Linked DNA regions of Homo sapiens: region 2 is linked to region 1. The links come from fine-mapping of genetic effects on gene expression. Tissue or cell type: whole blood. Region 1 holds a variant in brackets; the other region holds the start of a gene. All regions are shown on one strand. Distances are from middle to middle.

The links. PIP is the estimated chance that this variant, and not a neighbour inherited with it, causes the effect.
Region 2: it holds the start of GRIK4, and the variant in region 1 is fine-mapped to the expression of GRIK4 in whole blood (TOPMed, PIP 0.97).

The regions. Positions count from the first base shown.
Region 1 is chr11:120,808,697-120,813,696 of GRCh38, forward strand. All of the region lies in intron 4 of GRIK4 (glutamate ionotropic receptor kainate type subunit 4), which reads left to right. It overlaps LOC105369532 (a long non-coding RNA gene), which reads right to left. Exons shown (of 3, transcript NR_133008.1): 3 at 2,649-2,782. Among named protein-coding and RNA genes, the nearest start is that of TBCEL, 210 kb to the right of the region's middle. The variant ACT/A (reference allele first, on the strand shown) is at 2,944.
Region 2 is chr11:120,507,589-120,516,063 of GRCh38, forward strand. GRIK4 (glutamate ionotropic receptor kainate type subunit 4) reads left to right here and starts at 4,160. Exons shown (of 21, transcript NM_014619.5): 1 at 4,160-4,299. RefSeq lists silencers at 3,771-3,850, 4,031-4,230.

The DNA.
Region 1 (5,000 bases):
GAGAGGAGATGGTTCTTTGGAAGTGATGAGGCAATTGTTTGCCTTGCCCTAGGATGGCCAGGGCTTCACGTGTACTCTGTGCAGTATAAACAGGCTCAGAGGGAGACTGCACCCTCTGCTCCATTCAGGCTGCAGCATCGGGAAGTGCTTCCGTGTGAAGGACTCTGAGTTCTCCCAGCCCTCCCCAGTGCACATCTCTGTGAGCCCCGTGGGGCCAGGGTTGTTTGCCATCTGGGCCCAGAGAGCACTGAGCAGCTCCTCACTGTCAGGCAGGAGGACCTGGCCCCCTGGGTCCATCCAGGAAGCTGCTCCTTCCTGGAGGGGGGCTACAGTCAGTGGCACTTACCATTAGCTCCTCTAAACCATCTGCGACACAGCCTCACCCTCCCCTCCCTGAACTGCTCTCTGTCCGGAGGAGGGACCCTGTGAAGATGCAGGAAAGGGGAAAGGAGTAAGTTCCACGACGCCCCTCACCCCACCACCCCTGTCCAGCCTGGGCTTCTAAGGGGTCTCCAATCCATTGCCAGTGCTGACATTTTGAGATGAAGAAGTCCCTCCATGGGGCCACTACACCCCATCATGGCCTTTTATTCCAGCAGCTGAGCCTTCCAACTCCTCTGCTGCCTGGGAGGAAGAGGTAAACGCATCTCCCTCCCTTCCTGTGCCTCCTGCAAACTGCTCAGAGGGCCGAGGCCTGCAGAATCAGCATGCAGGGGTTCCAGAGCTGAGACCCTTTATAAATGATTTCCATCTCTACTGAGCAGGGCACCCTTCATAGGGAACGAAAGACCAGTTCCCAGATCCCAGGAAATCCCCAGGCCATAGCCACTGCTAAGACCCTAATTCAGTTCCACTGGACTCATTTGGGATCATTTCAGTTCAGTTGAGCAAACATTTAATGAGCAATTTCTTTTTGCCAGGGCTGAATAGACATGACCCCTGATCTCAAGGCCATTTATGATCCAGTGAGGGAGATGGACACATTGACACACGTGTATGAGAAGCTCAGAATGGCAGGCGCAGGCCCACAAACCCTCGAGGCCTGATGTGTGTAGAATCCAGATTGAGACATTGGGAAGGTTGAGGGGCTGGGCGTGGTGGCTCATGCCTGTAAATCCCATCACTTCGGGAGGCTGAAGTGGGAGGATTGCTTGACGCCAAGAGTTCAAGACCAGCCTGGGCGATGTAGTGGGGCCCCATCTCTACAAAAAATAAAAAATTAGCCAAGAATGGTGGCATGCACCTGTAGTCCCAGCTACTCAGGAGGCTGAGGCAGGAGGATTGCTTGAGCCCAGGGGTTCAAGTCTGCAGTGAGCTATGATTGCTCCACTGCACTCCAGCCTGAGTTACAAAGTGAGACACTGTCTCAAAACAAACAAACAAACAAAAGAACGGTTGTGTGGTGCATGTACCATATGTAAAGTTGAATCTCCAGTAACCCCATACTCAAACAAATGCATGCTTATATTCAAATACTCACACATTGTAAATAGCTTTACATCTGTCTGTTGAGATCAGATTTTGCCAACAACTGAGTTTGATGAAAAACATCAAGTTTCAGAGCCTTTTGGACTTTGGAATTGGGAATAAGGAATTGTGGCCTTCTATAAGAATTTATTTTCAGGAGAAACTTTCCTTTCTTGGGAACCAACATCACCAGGCTGCTTGGGACAGAAGCTGGCCAGGAATTCAGAGAGCAAGGAAGCTGCGCTGTCTCCTAAAGGCGGCTGACTCAGAGCCACAGTGTGCTGTGAATATAGGGAGGGAGAGATGCCTTCTGGCCTAGGAGCAAGATCTGAGCTGGATGCTGAAGTATGAGTGGGAGTTTGCTAGGCAGAAGGGCAAGAGAAGCCTAGACCATGGTAGTCTGGAGATGCTAATGAATCCCTTCTCAGATAAATGTTTTTAAATGAATAAAAACCTTTTTATTAATAAAAAAGGATAGAAAATAAATAACAAAAATCCAATAAAATGGATAGGGTGACTATGGAAACCAGCTATATGGAAATGCAGTTATATTTTAATAGTGGTATACTAATATATATGCTTCTTCATTAATGTATTAAATAGCATCGAGCCTAATTACTACCATAATCTTGAAGTAATAATGAATATAACTGGTATTTGAAGATATCCTTAGCACTGTAGTGTCATATGAAAACTGCGGTGATTTCTGTGGGAAACAAAGTCACAGGTGCTATTAACACACTGTAGTTTGTTGCCTACATTCAAAATGGAAAGAAATGCTACATTTCACTTAGGGGTTAGAGAAAAGAATGATGTAATTCCCCCCACAAGTGTTCACAGACCCCTGACTTCTACCCACAGACCCCAGGCTACAGGTTAAGAACCCCTGATCTAGAGATAGCCATTTGGGAACAGGATCAGGCAGGAAAATATGTACAGAGTATGTTCTAGGTGAGCTGGCATGCAGCGGGAGATGGCACGGTGGGAGAAGGGGCTGCAAAGACAGGACTTAAGGAGACCAGAGTCACTCGAATTTTACTTGCTCATCAGAAGAATGTTTTTATTATAGCATTGTATTCTTTATAATATGTTATAAAAAGGAATACATGCTCATTATAGAAAGTAGTGAAATGAAAAAAGGGAAGACAATAACTCAGTGTTCCAGTGGCCAAGGCAATCTACAAACATCCCAGTTAATTGCCATTTGCTGGGGATGGCTGTGCGGTGCAGTGGTTAAGGGGCCGGTCTTTGGGGAAATGGGTGGAGCTGTTGAATCTTGACTCTGCTCTTTAATTTCTCTCTGTTGATTTTGTATCTGTAAAATGAGAATGACAGTAATAGTACCTATTTCCTCAGTTTGTTTTGGGAATTAAATATGTCAGTTCCCGTAAGAGTGCTTCGAACGGGCCATAGTTAACACTCAGTACATGTAGTCTTTAATAACATCTTCTCATAATCATTCCTCAGTGTATAAGT[ACT/A]CTCTGTATTTGCTTAGTTGTAGCCTTCATATAGATATACATATAATTTTATATCCTGCTTCTGTCTCTTAGTATTATTAAATAAATATTTTTAATACTATTATAAACTGTTCATAAGTATTTTAAATGCCTAAATAATATTCCATTTGGGCATACAGCCCACATTTTATATACTTATTCCCTTATGATTATACATTTAGTTTATTTCCAGTTTTGCATGGAAGGTGTTGAGTGGGCCTCAGTGTGGTTCAGCAACTGTTTATAGGCCACGTAACTCTGAGTCAGGCCTTGTTCTAAGTATGGAGGACACAGACATAAATAAGACAGGTTCTCTGCCTTGGGGGCACACTCCGATCTACGTTTTAGGACTATAATTTGCCCCACCGTTTAAAGAATGGATTGGAAATGAAGAATCCTGGAGACAGAGAGACTCCCTTAGAAGGGCAGGTTATAAAGAGGGGTTGACCTGGAACCATGGCAGTAGACGTAGGAAGGAAGGGCTGGCAGAGAGTGAGAAGGTCAGATGGTCGGAACCTGGCCCTTGACCTGTAAAGCAGGAGAACAGCTTGAGTGAGGGAAGGCAAGAAAGAGGCCAGGATGACTGTGGCTTTGAGCTTGAGGAGATAAGAGGAGTAAAGTAGAGTGGGTAAGAGCACTGGCTTTGGTGCCATGTCGATCCCCAAGTTCAAGCCCAGTTTGACCTTATATTACCTGTGTGATCTTAAACAAGTTACTTAAACTTTCTAGGCCTCAGCTTCCCCAGCTGTAAAGTGGAGATAAAAATGAATTTTCCTCATAGAAGTGTGGAGATCCAACCAGATTGTGAAAAATATATAACAAATCTGATATGGTGGGGATAATAATAAAAGGGTCATGTAGCATGTCAGGTACCATTCTGAATGTTAAGTATTAATTCACTTTAATTCTCACAGCAACCTTATGAGAGAGGTGTTATTAGTATCTTATAGGTGAGAAAACAGGCCCAGAGGTTTGATAATTTGCTCAAGGTCTCGAAACTAGTAAGTGACAGAGACTCAAACCCAGACAGCCATGCATCAGACTCCAAGCTCTTACAGAACTGAGTGTGAGATGCCAGAGGGAAGGCCCTGTGGCAACGTCCAGCAGGTGGTTGGAACTTGACTTTGTGACCCAGCACATAGGTGAGAGTGCAGGGTCATCTGGGCAGAGACAAGGGTGGAGGCTGTAGGCAATGGTAAAATGGCCCAGGAACAGTGAGTCAGGGGCAAAACCTGAATTTGGTGGGTGGGAGAAGGAAGAGGAGTCAGCAATGAGTGAAAGACTGACCAGAGAACTGGAGGAGAATCCAGATTGCACGGTGTTAGGAAATTCTAAAGAACAATGCAATCAGAACAAGTGCTGCAGAAAGAGAACAGGATGAGAATGGATAACAGGTCATGGTGACCTTGGAGAAAGTGGATTCAGTAGACGAGGTGGGCGGGGGGACCTCCACTGTAAGAGGCTGAGAAGTGCTGGGTGTAGGAGTGGCTGGCTGCAAGGAGCAGTGCAGACAAAGTAAGTGGCTGTGAGAGAGGAACATGAACCCTGGATGCGGGTCAGGAGACTTGAATCCAGATGCCAACTCTGGCCTTGATTAGGTGTGTGACCAGAGCGGAGGCACTTCACGTCTCTGGGGTGCTGTGTCCTTACCAGTAAAATCAGGAGATAAGACCCCACTCCCCCAAGGCAGTTGTAGGGATCTGAGGGGATGATGAACTTCAAGCACCTAGTGGGCTGTAAGAGTTAAGTTGGCTGAGGTCACATGAGATAACCCCCATGGAAGTAGCTTGGAATTTGAAGAGACTCTTCAAAGATGAAGCCTGATCATCACTACTTTGGCCAGACACTTAGTACTGATGAGTCCTCCAGTCAGCTGAGATTTTGGGATGTTGTGGGATGCCTGCCCAAGCCATAGGCTAAGAGAAGACTCCAAGATCTATAGTTCATATGGTAAATTGCAATGCTGGGATTTGAACCCTGGTGTTCTGCCTTGCTGCCTGTACCCCGTTCAGATGATCACCTGGCTGTATTGGACTC
Region 2 (8,475 bases), 300 kb before region 1:
ATTTCATCTGACTCATCTGGACAAATGACAGGAGCAAATCCGATTTGCCAGAACTGTAGACCTCATTAACCCCTTCTCTCTATTGGTTTATCCATTCAACACATTTACTAAGAATCTCCTATGCCAAGCACTGTGTGGTTAATAGATTTTTTTTTTTTTTTTTTTGAGCTGGAGTTTCATTCTTGTTGCCCAGGCTGGAGTGCAATGGCACGATCTCAGCAACCTCTGCCTCCCCAGTTCAAGTGATTCTCCTGCCTCGGCCTCCTGAGTAGCTGGGACTACAGGTCCCATGCCACCACGCCCGGATAAGTTTGTATTTTTAGTAGAGACAGGGTTTCTCCATGTTGGCCAGGCTGGTCTCAAACTCTGACCTCAGGTGATCCACCCGCCTCGGCCTCCCAAAGTGCTGAGATTACAGGTGTGAGCCACTGTGCCCGGCCAGAGATTTTTTAAAAAGCCTATAGTCTAATTATGAACTTGAGATGAACCTTCAAGGGACCTTTGGAAAAGAAATGGTAGGTAAATTTAAGATCAAATATCTGATTTGCGGATATACCTGAGGCAAATACAAAGAAGGGAGAAGCTAAAATATAAATCCAGGAGAACAAGCTCACAGTCTATTAGTGAGAGCAGACGTGAAACAAGTAAGTGACCATAAACTCTAACAAGCACAAGAGAGATCCCGAGAAGGGAGTAATTACTTCTGTTGGGAAGGGACTAGATAGCCAGGTATGATAAACTTCTAGTAGGAGAGGTTCCCAAACAGAATTCTGAGCGGTTAATAGGAACTTGTGTATCAGTGTGTATGTGGGAGGTAGGGTGGGGACTCTGGGCAGAATTCAGTGTGTTAAAGGCACAGAGGTATGAAATGGGATGAGCAGAGAACTCAGTGCTGCTTGGTACTGACTGAAGGTGAGATGGACAGAAATGGATGATGGGTGAGGTGGGGAAGTAAGCAGGGAACTTGTATGCTGTGCTAAGAAGTTTTGGACTCGAGGCTGGGTGCGGTGGTGCACGCCTGTAATCCCAGCACTTTGGGAGGCCGAGGCGGGCAGATCACGAGGTCAAGAGTTGGAGACCAGCCTGGCCAACATGGTGAAACCCCATCTCTACTAAAAATACAAAGGTTAGCCGGGCGTGGTGGCGGGTGCCTGTAGTCCCAGATACTCAGGAGGCTGAGGCAGGAGAATCGCTTGAACCCGGGAGGCAGAGGTTGCAGTGAGCCGAGATTCCGCCACTGTACTCCACTCCAGCCTGGTGACAGAGGAGTGACTCCGTCTTAAAAAAAAAAAAGTTTTGGACTCAATATGAGGTCATGAAGGGGTTTTCAGCAAGGGTGTAAAGTGGTGAAGCTTGTTTTAGAGACATCACTCTGGCAGCCATTTGTAGACATATTGGAGGGAGCCAATTTAAAGGCAGGGAGATGAGCTAGAGGGCCGCTGCAATAGTTTCTAAGACATGGTGACATGATATGATATGTGCCACTCAGCAAGGTGACAACAAGTCACCTGCTCACCGTGTGCCTCAGCTGGCCCCATTTATGCAGAGGGATCATTATGAATGTGTGATGAACCTTCAAAGGGACCTTCGGAAAAGACATGGCAGGTACATTTAAGATCAAATATTCTTCTTAGTGGATATACCAGAGGCAGATAGATGGAAGAAATTAAAGATAAATCCAAGAGAACAAACTCCTTCCTGTGCGCTCCGACCACCATGGCGCCCAAGCACAATGAATCCTATCCGTCCTGCACAGCATAGCAGCTGGCTGTGAGGGATGTTTCAGATGAGAGGTTCTAGAGGTGGGAGCCCCATTTCCCAACCCTTCTGTTTTTTCATTCAAGGCAGCAGCCTCAGAGTAGATCAGCGGGGCCAGCCTCGTGGCCCTCTGACATTCTCCCCCTGTGGCTTCCAAAAAAGATCTGGACTGACCTTCCCACCCCTGGAGCTGAGCTTGAGAAGTCAGCTTGCCTGGAATTGAATTTTTTCAGTAGTAAAAAAGGTGGAGAGCAAGTAGTAAGTATCCCAAAGAACTCAACATCTTGCAGCAAGGGGAGACAGGAGAGTGGGTGGGGGCAACCAGGCTGAGGCTAACAGCAGACTTCTGTACCGGCAGACTTCGCTGACATTGTTGTCCACCCTGTGACTGGTAGGGACTCCCTGCTTCTAGGGGCAGAGGCCTTAAGAAAGGAAAAGAAAGTCAGAACCATTCTTGCAAGAAGGGGAGAAACCAGGGCCCTCAGGAGGCCACAGCCAAGACTATCTCCAGAGCCATCAGCAATCTCTCTGACCTGCCAAAAGCTCCTCCCCGCTTCCCTGGTTAATAGGATGAGATCACCAGGCAAAAGAATATGATGAAGCATTTCACTTATATAGTATTTTTCTTTCCAAACACTTAATAAGCCTCTCTGGTCTCGCTGATCTTGCATTCTTCCCGTGAAAGGGGCCAGGGATCCATGCTTGGCATTTCAGAGTTTGCGCGGCTTGAGAGATCATCTAGTCTGCTTCCCTCACTTTTAGAGTTATGGGAACTGAAGTCCAGGGAAGTGAAATCGCTTGCTGGGATCACAGGGATGCCTCTCCCTCCTCCCAGCCCCGTACACTTTCTGCTAGGCTTATGCTGCTGTTCCGTCCATTTTGCACAAGAGAGGGGGTTCCAGAGTGGGGGAATAGAGTTGGAATTAGAAATTAGTTTTGTGTCACTGGCTTACAGGTGCTCTTAAACCTTAACAGGTTTAACATCCTCTGTAAAATGGGACTAGTGTCACCTCAACACCTACCTTGCAAAGTTGATTATTGGGAATCACACTTGTGTAAGCGGTATAGTCTTGGCAAACAGTAGGTGCTAAATAATGTCTGGCTGGAGGAATGGAGCCCTGTTCGCATATGGCATTCATCCAGCCAGTGTGTGGAGCTGGGGGAGGGATAGGCACGACTCCTGAAGCAGGAGGCCCAGTACGCGCCCAGGCTAGCCAGCCAGCCCTCCCCGGGGAATGCAACGTCCAGAACAGTCTATAGTCCCGATAGTATGCCTCATGCGTGAGACCTGACCAAGGACGTCTGTGAACAAACCCTTCACAGAGAGCTTAATGAGATTGTGGGAGTGCTGGTGGTTGGGTGTGGGGATACAGGCCATTGAAGGTGAGAGGGCCGGTGTGATCAGTTTGGTGGTCTGCCCAAGACAGAGACTCTGCGGGTTGGATAAGAGGGAGCTAATAGGTTTGAGGGGGTCACGTGTCCCTTGCCCTCCCTCCTATTCCCCCAGGACTCCCTCTTCACCCAGCCTCCTCCTAAGGGCAACTCTGTTGTATTAGGATGAACCACACGGTGTACTGAAATGAACCGCGCGTCAGAAAGCGGGGTTGCCTCCTGGGTCCTGCCACTTGCTCCCCGTGTGTTCTTGGCCTGGTCCCTTCACCTCTCCTAGCCTCAGGATCTTCATGCGTAACATGAGATCCTCCCAAGATGTTGGTATGTATACAACAGTGCTCTGGAATGACTCCATGCAAGCTGTTGCTCTTCAGTCTCCTGAACAAGGTGCTCTTGTCTCGTCCCATGAAACCTCCACCTCTCCATCTTCCGCACCACTGAGGCCGCAGTCTCTTCTAACGGGGCACGCTCGTCCCCCGCGCTGTTTCCCGAATGCCACCAGGGGGCGCCCCTTGCTCGCTGAAGCCGCCGGGCTAATAACTCCTCGGGGCCGGGGCGGGCTGCCCCTTTGCGCAGGGCGGTGGAGTGTGCGGGCTGCGCCGGGTTCCCCACCTGAGGTCCGTACCTCGCAGAGCCCGCTTGGCCGCGCGCCCCTAGCCTCTGCCGGGCGCCGCTCCCCAGCCGGGCGCCTCTCGCTCGGCCCCGGGCCCCCGGGCAGCCGCAAGTTTGCCCCCGGCCGCGCGGACCCGCGCCCGCCCTGCCCGCAGCAGCCCCCGCCGTTCCCGCCGCCCCCGCCGCCCCCGCGCCTGGGCTCCCGGGCGACGCTCCGAGGGGCGCTGGGGGGCGCGTGCAGCTGCCCGCGGGGCTCCGGCCCGGCCCCGAAGGGGCGCCCCCCCGGCCGGCCGTGCGCGGGGCCGCAGCAGTTCCCCAGCTGCCCGCCGGGCGGCGCCCCGCGCCTCGCTGCGCTCCTCCCGCGCTCCCCGCGCCGGGCTCGCTCGCAGCCGGACACAGACTGCCTTCAGCTGCGGGCGGATCGGGCTGGAGCCGCCACGGCTGCTGCGGAAGAGGAAAAACGGCCAACAGCAGCCCCGCGGCCGGCCCGGCAGCGCCCGGCCCCCGGCTCAGCCCCCGGAGTGCGGAGCCGACCAGGTAAGGGCAGCGGCCCCCCGCGGCGCCCCCGGCCCGCTCCCTGCGCTGCCCCCGCGCCCCCGAGTCCCCTCCGCGCTGGCCCTTCCCGCACCCCGACTTCTGACGTCTCCGCCGCTCCTGCCCTCGGGGGCCGCGGCCCCGCACCCCTGCCCCGGCCCCCGCCCCCGCGCCCTCCTCCCCGCTCCCGCCTCCCGCCAGCCCGGTCCCTGGCACTTCGGTCCCTGCGTCTCCAGATTCGCCGCCGAACCCCCCACCGCTCTGCTCCCGTAGTTCCTCCAGTCTTCACCCCGGTCCGTCTCCCTCCCTCCGCATCCCTTCCCCGGGCTCGCGGTCCTCCCGCTCTGGTCCTCCCCCTCCCCGTGCAACTCCCAGCCCTGCCTCTGTCCCCTGCAGGGATGACAGCCCCTTCCCAGCCTGGCGCGTCTCCCCTACACCTCGTCACCCTCCGCTTCTCCCAGCGCCTCTGTTCCCCGGCTGCAGCCCCCCATCCCGGCTCAGCCTGGCATCCCACCAAGCCCCCTCCCCCTTTCCTCACTGCCATCTGCCTCGACTGCCCCCTGCCCCTGCACTGGACTCGGGCCACCACCACACCCCCCCACCCTGCACACCGCCTTGCTTGGGGGAACCAGCGTCCTATCAGAAATGATCCTCTTTCCCGGGGAGAATGGGGCTCCCACCCATCCCACCCTAGTTCATCCGAGTGGGAAGTGAGGGAGAAACTCTAGAGACCTGCAATGGGCGCGTGATGGGGGAGGGGGCTGGGGCGGAGGGGGAGGGGAGCTGATTTAGATTCTCTTCAGTGAGGACTGGCAGAGCTGTGCGCTCCGACCTGGCTGGGGTGGAGGGCGTGCAGGCGACAGCTGGGACAGGGGGTTCAAGGCACTGAGAGCACCTGTGTCTCTTTCCCTGGCTCCCTTGAGCTGAGCAAAGTGAGGGGAGGAGTTGGAGCCTGGGGAGAGTTGGCTGAGGGCCTTGGGGTGGTGGAGGAGGCGGCCGAGGGGGCTGGGCCCCGGGCGCCTCTGGCCCGTCTGCCTGGCAGTGGTGGGGCAATGCGGGCCGAGCCACTCCCGGGCTGGACCTTGGGCTGCGTGGCTCTTGGCATCTGTACTTGATGCTGCCATCTTCCTCTTGGTGCTGTTGTCTGGTGATGCCACGCGGTGCCACCTCCCTGCCTCCCTCCAGTGGCTCTCCTGGGCATGTCTCCCAAGGGTCTGGGTTGTCTGGGAAGAGGAGGGGAGCTCTGAGCACAGCTGGGCCCTTTTGCCAGGCAGTGGGCAGCTGTCAAGACCAGGCCAAGAGGTCTGAGGGCTGGTCAGGAGGACTGAGCCCTGCCAGGAACAAAGAACTACCTTCACTTTCACTCCCTATGGGTCACCTGGTTGGTAGTGACACTTCTAGGAGCACCGGGAAACTGCGGGCGTGGTATCTCCGGGGAGAGAGGCCGCCTGGGTTGGTAGTGGGCATCTGAGAGACAAATCCGGTCCTGCCTGACTCCCTGACTGTCTGTGCTCGCGTGGTCAGGGGCGAGGGGCTTGTCGAGGTCCACTGTGTTCCGGTCCCACCAGGGATGGCAGCCCCTGGAATTCCACTGGGCGTCATCATGCTGGCTTTATTTGCTGAAGCTGCAGCTCAGGCTTCATCATTAATCAGGTTTATTATTTTTCTCACTGGCCAGATGTGTTCCTCAAGGTCACGACCCTTCGGAGAGTTAATCTAATATGCACACATTACAGTGTCTGGGTTTGTTTAATTTTCCATATTTTGTTCATTCCTTGTGGCCCGGGCTTGCCCACCAGCCTCCCGCCTGCCTCACCAGCTCCACCCCTCTGTCCTCCTCTGGACCTGCCACCTGAAACCCAGAGGCAGCACTGGTCCCTCCGGGTGGGGAAGAGGTGGATGCTCGGGAGGGGAGGTTGAGAGGGGATCTTGGTTTTCTGTGTTTTTCCCATCCCCCTACCTGGGCATCTTGATCGGTGGCTGCTGTCTTCCCCAGCAATGAAAATTCTTCCGAGAGCCTGGGTCGGCTTCGTGGTCTGATTTCCACTTTGGTTTTCCCTTAGGATGGAGAGGGAACTTTAGTACCGGGAGAGAGGCAGAGACTCTAGGAGAAAGTCCCAGCTGCAGGGAGTCAGGGCATCCAGGAGAGAGGAGCTCAGCTGCTTCTGAGGTGGTTCTCAGCCATCCAGAGATGGAAGGGAGGACAGGGGGACCGGCCCTGGGTTGGGGGAGAGACTGCTCAGAAGGCAAGAGAAGCAGCGAGGCGGAAGCTGGCCTTTGTGTGGCTGGCGAGGGTGGGCAGCGCCAAGCGTGTGTGGGAAGGATGCATCTCTTGGTGCTTCTGCATAGTACTAATCCCTTATGTGTGTATGGGGTTCTGCAGCATTCCAGATGCCTCTCAGAACAATTACTTCATTTGATCTCTACTACAGCCCTGCAAGCATCTGATCGCTCCTTACAGACAGCCTTATAAGGAGGCATTCATGACCCAACAGAAACTGAGGCTCAGAGAGGCTGGATGCCTCATCCAAGGCTCCACAGCTGGGTCCCAGGCCCCTGGACGCTCAGTCCAGTGCTGTTGGGCTCGTTGCTGTTGCTTTTTAAGGTCTCAGCTGTTTGGTTCTCAGAAAGCCCACCCTTGGTCCTGCCTGTTCCTCAGTTCATCCCCTTCGCCCTCTCCAGTGATGGCTCACCGTTTTCACCCCCACCCCAGGCCTGGTGGAGTCTTTGCTCTGTAGTCTCCTCAGCCTTAGACTGGCTGCCTGGGTGTCCCGCCACTCCCTAGACCCAACCAACCACCCCCTACCCCAAGTGGGCACTGCCTCTTGCCTCCTCCTTGTGGAAAGAACGGCTGGGTTCCCCCAGGCATGCAGCCGGGGTGCCTGGGGCACCCTCCTTCCCTCTCTCTGGTGCCTTAGGCCTCAGCCCACTCAGTTCTTCTGGGCACTTCGAGTGTCCACTCCGACCTTTGCTCTCCCACTGCCGTGGTCCCTACTTGGGCCTTTGGCTGTTCACCCTGAGTTACGGTCCTGAAAGCTTCCTTGTTGGGCCTCCAGCCTCAGTTTCCAGCCATCCTGCCGCTGTGCCTGTCTTCTTACAGAGGGTAACGCTTCTCACAGGGGACCCTGTCTCAGCAGCCGTCAGTGGCAGTGCCTTCCAAGATGCCTTGCAGGTGAAGGCCCTCTGCACGCTGACCCCAACTTTATGTCACAACGTGGTGTCTGGCATGATCTTGTCCCCCCTCCCCTGGCCACCCAGCCCTGGCACTGTGTGTCCTCACCCTGGCCCTTTGCATTTCCTCCTCTTTTCCTCCCATCCATATATTGCCCAGCCTTCAAGGTGCTGCTGGAAGAGGAACCAGTTCCAGCTACCAAGTATCAGGCAGACCTGGGTTCCTGTCCTCACATCACTCCCTGCATGACCTCGGACAAGTTGCCTCACCTCTCTGAGCCTCACTGCCCTCACCTGTAAAATGGGGACTCTGAGCCTCACTGGCCTCACCTGTAAAATGGGGATAAATCTCACCTGCTTCAGAGGGTTAGCAGCATGGAATGTGAGTGGGAGTGTGACTCGTCCAGTGTGAAGGGCACCTGCATGGGTATGGAGGGCACATTCTCTGAGTGGCCGCCTTCTGCTCTCCCTCTGTATGGGCTGGCTGAGCCCCCTGCTCCTACCTGGTATTGGTAATCGTCTGTCCGTTTGTCTCCCCACCCAGAGGGCAGATTCCTGGAGGAGCAAGGCCTTTGCCTGACACCTTTTCACATTCTCTGACTCCCAGCAGAGCGAGGCTGTTCTTCAACATCCTGTAAATCGGCCCTCTTCATAGTAAGGACATAAGATATAGTTGTTGCTTGATTATAACGTTCTGTTACATAAAATAGGGTATGCCTTACATTTAGTAAATCCAGTATGAACAAAAAACTTATGCCACAGTTGCAGGCTGGGTAAATTATGGGAAGGAAGGAAGGAATCAATGTAACATTGTATTGACTGCGTACTCCGTTTGTTTCGCTCAGTCAGTCCAGCTACCCGGCGAGTTAGCTGTGGGCATCTCCTTTTCCACAGATGAGGAAGGGAGTCCCAGGAGGTCACACACTCTGTCCCACATCCCAGACTGGTGAGTGCGGTAGGACCCCAGCTTCTTCCCCTACACTTGGGCATCCTCTGCCTTAAAAACCA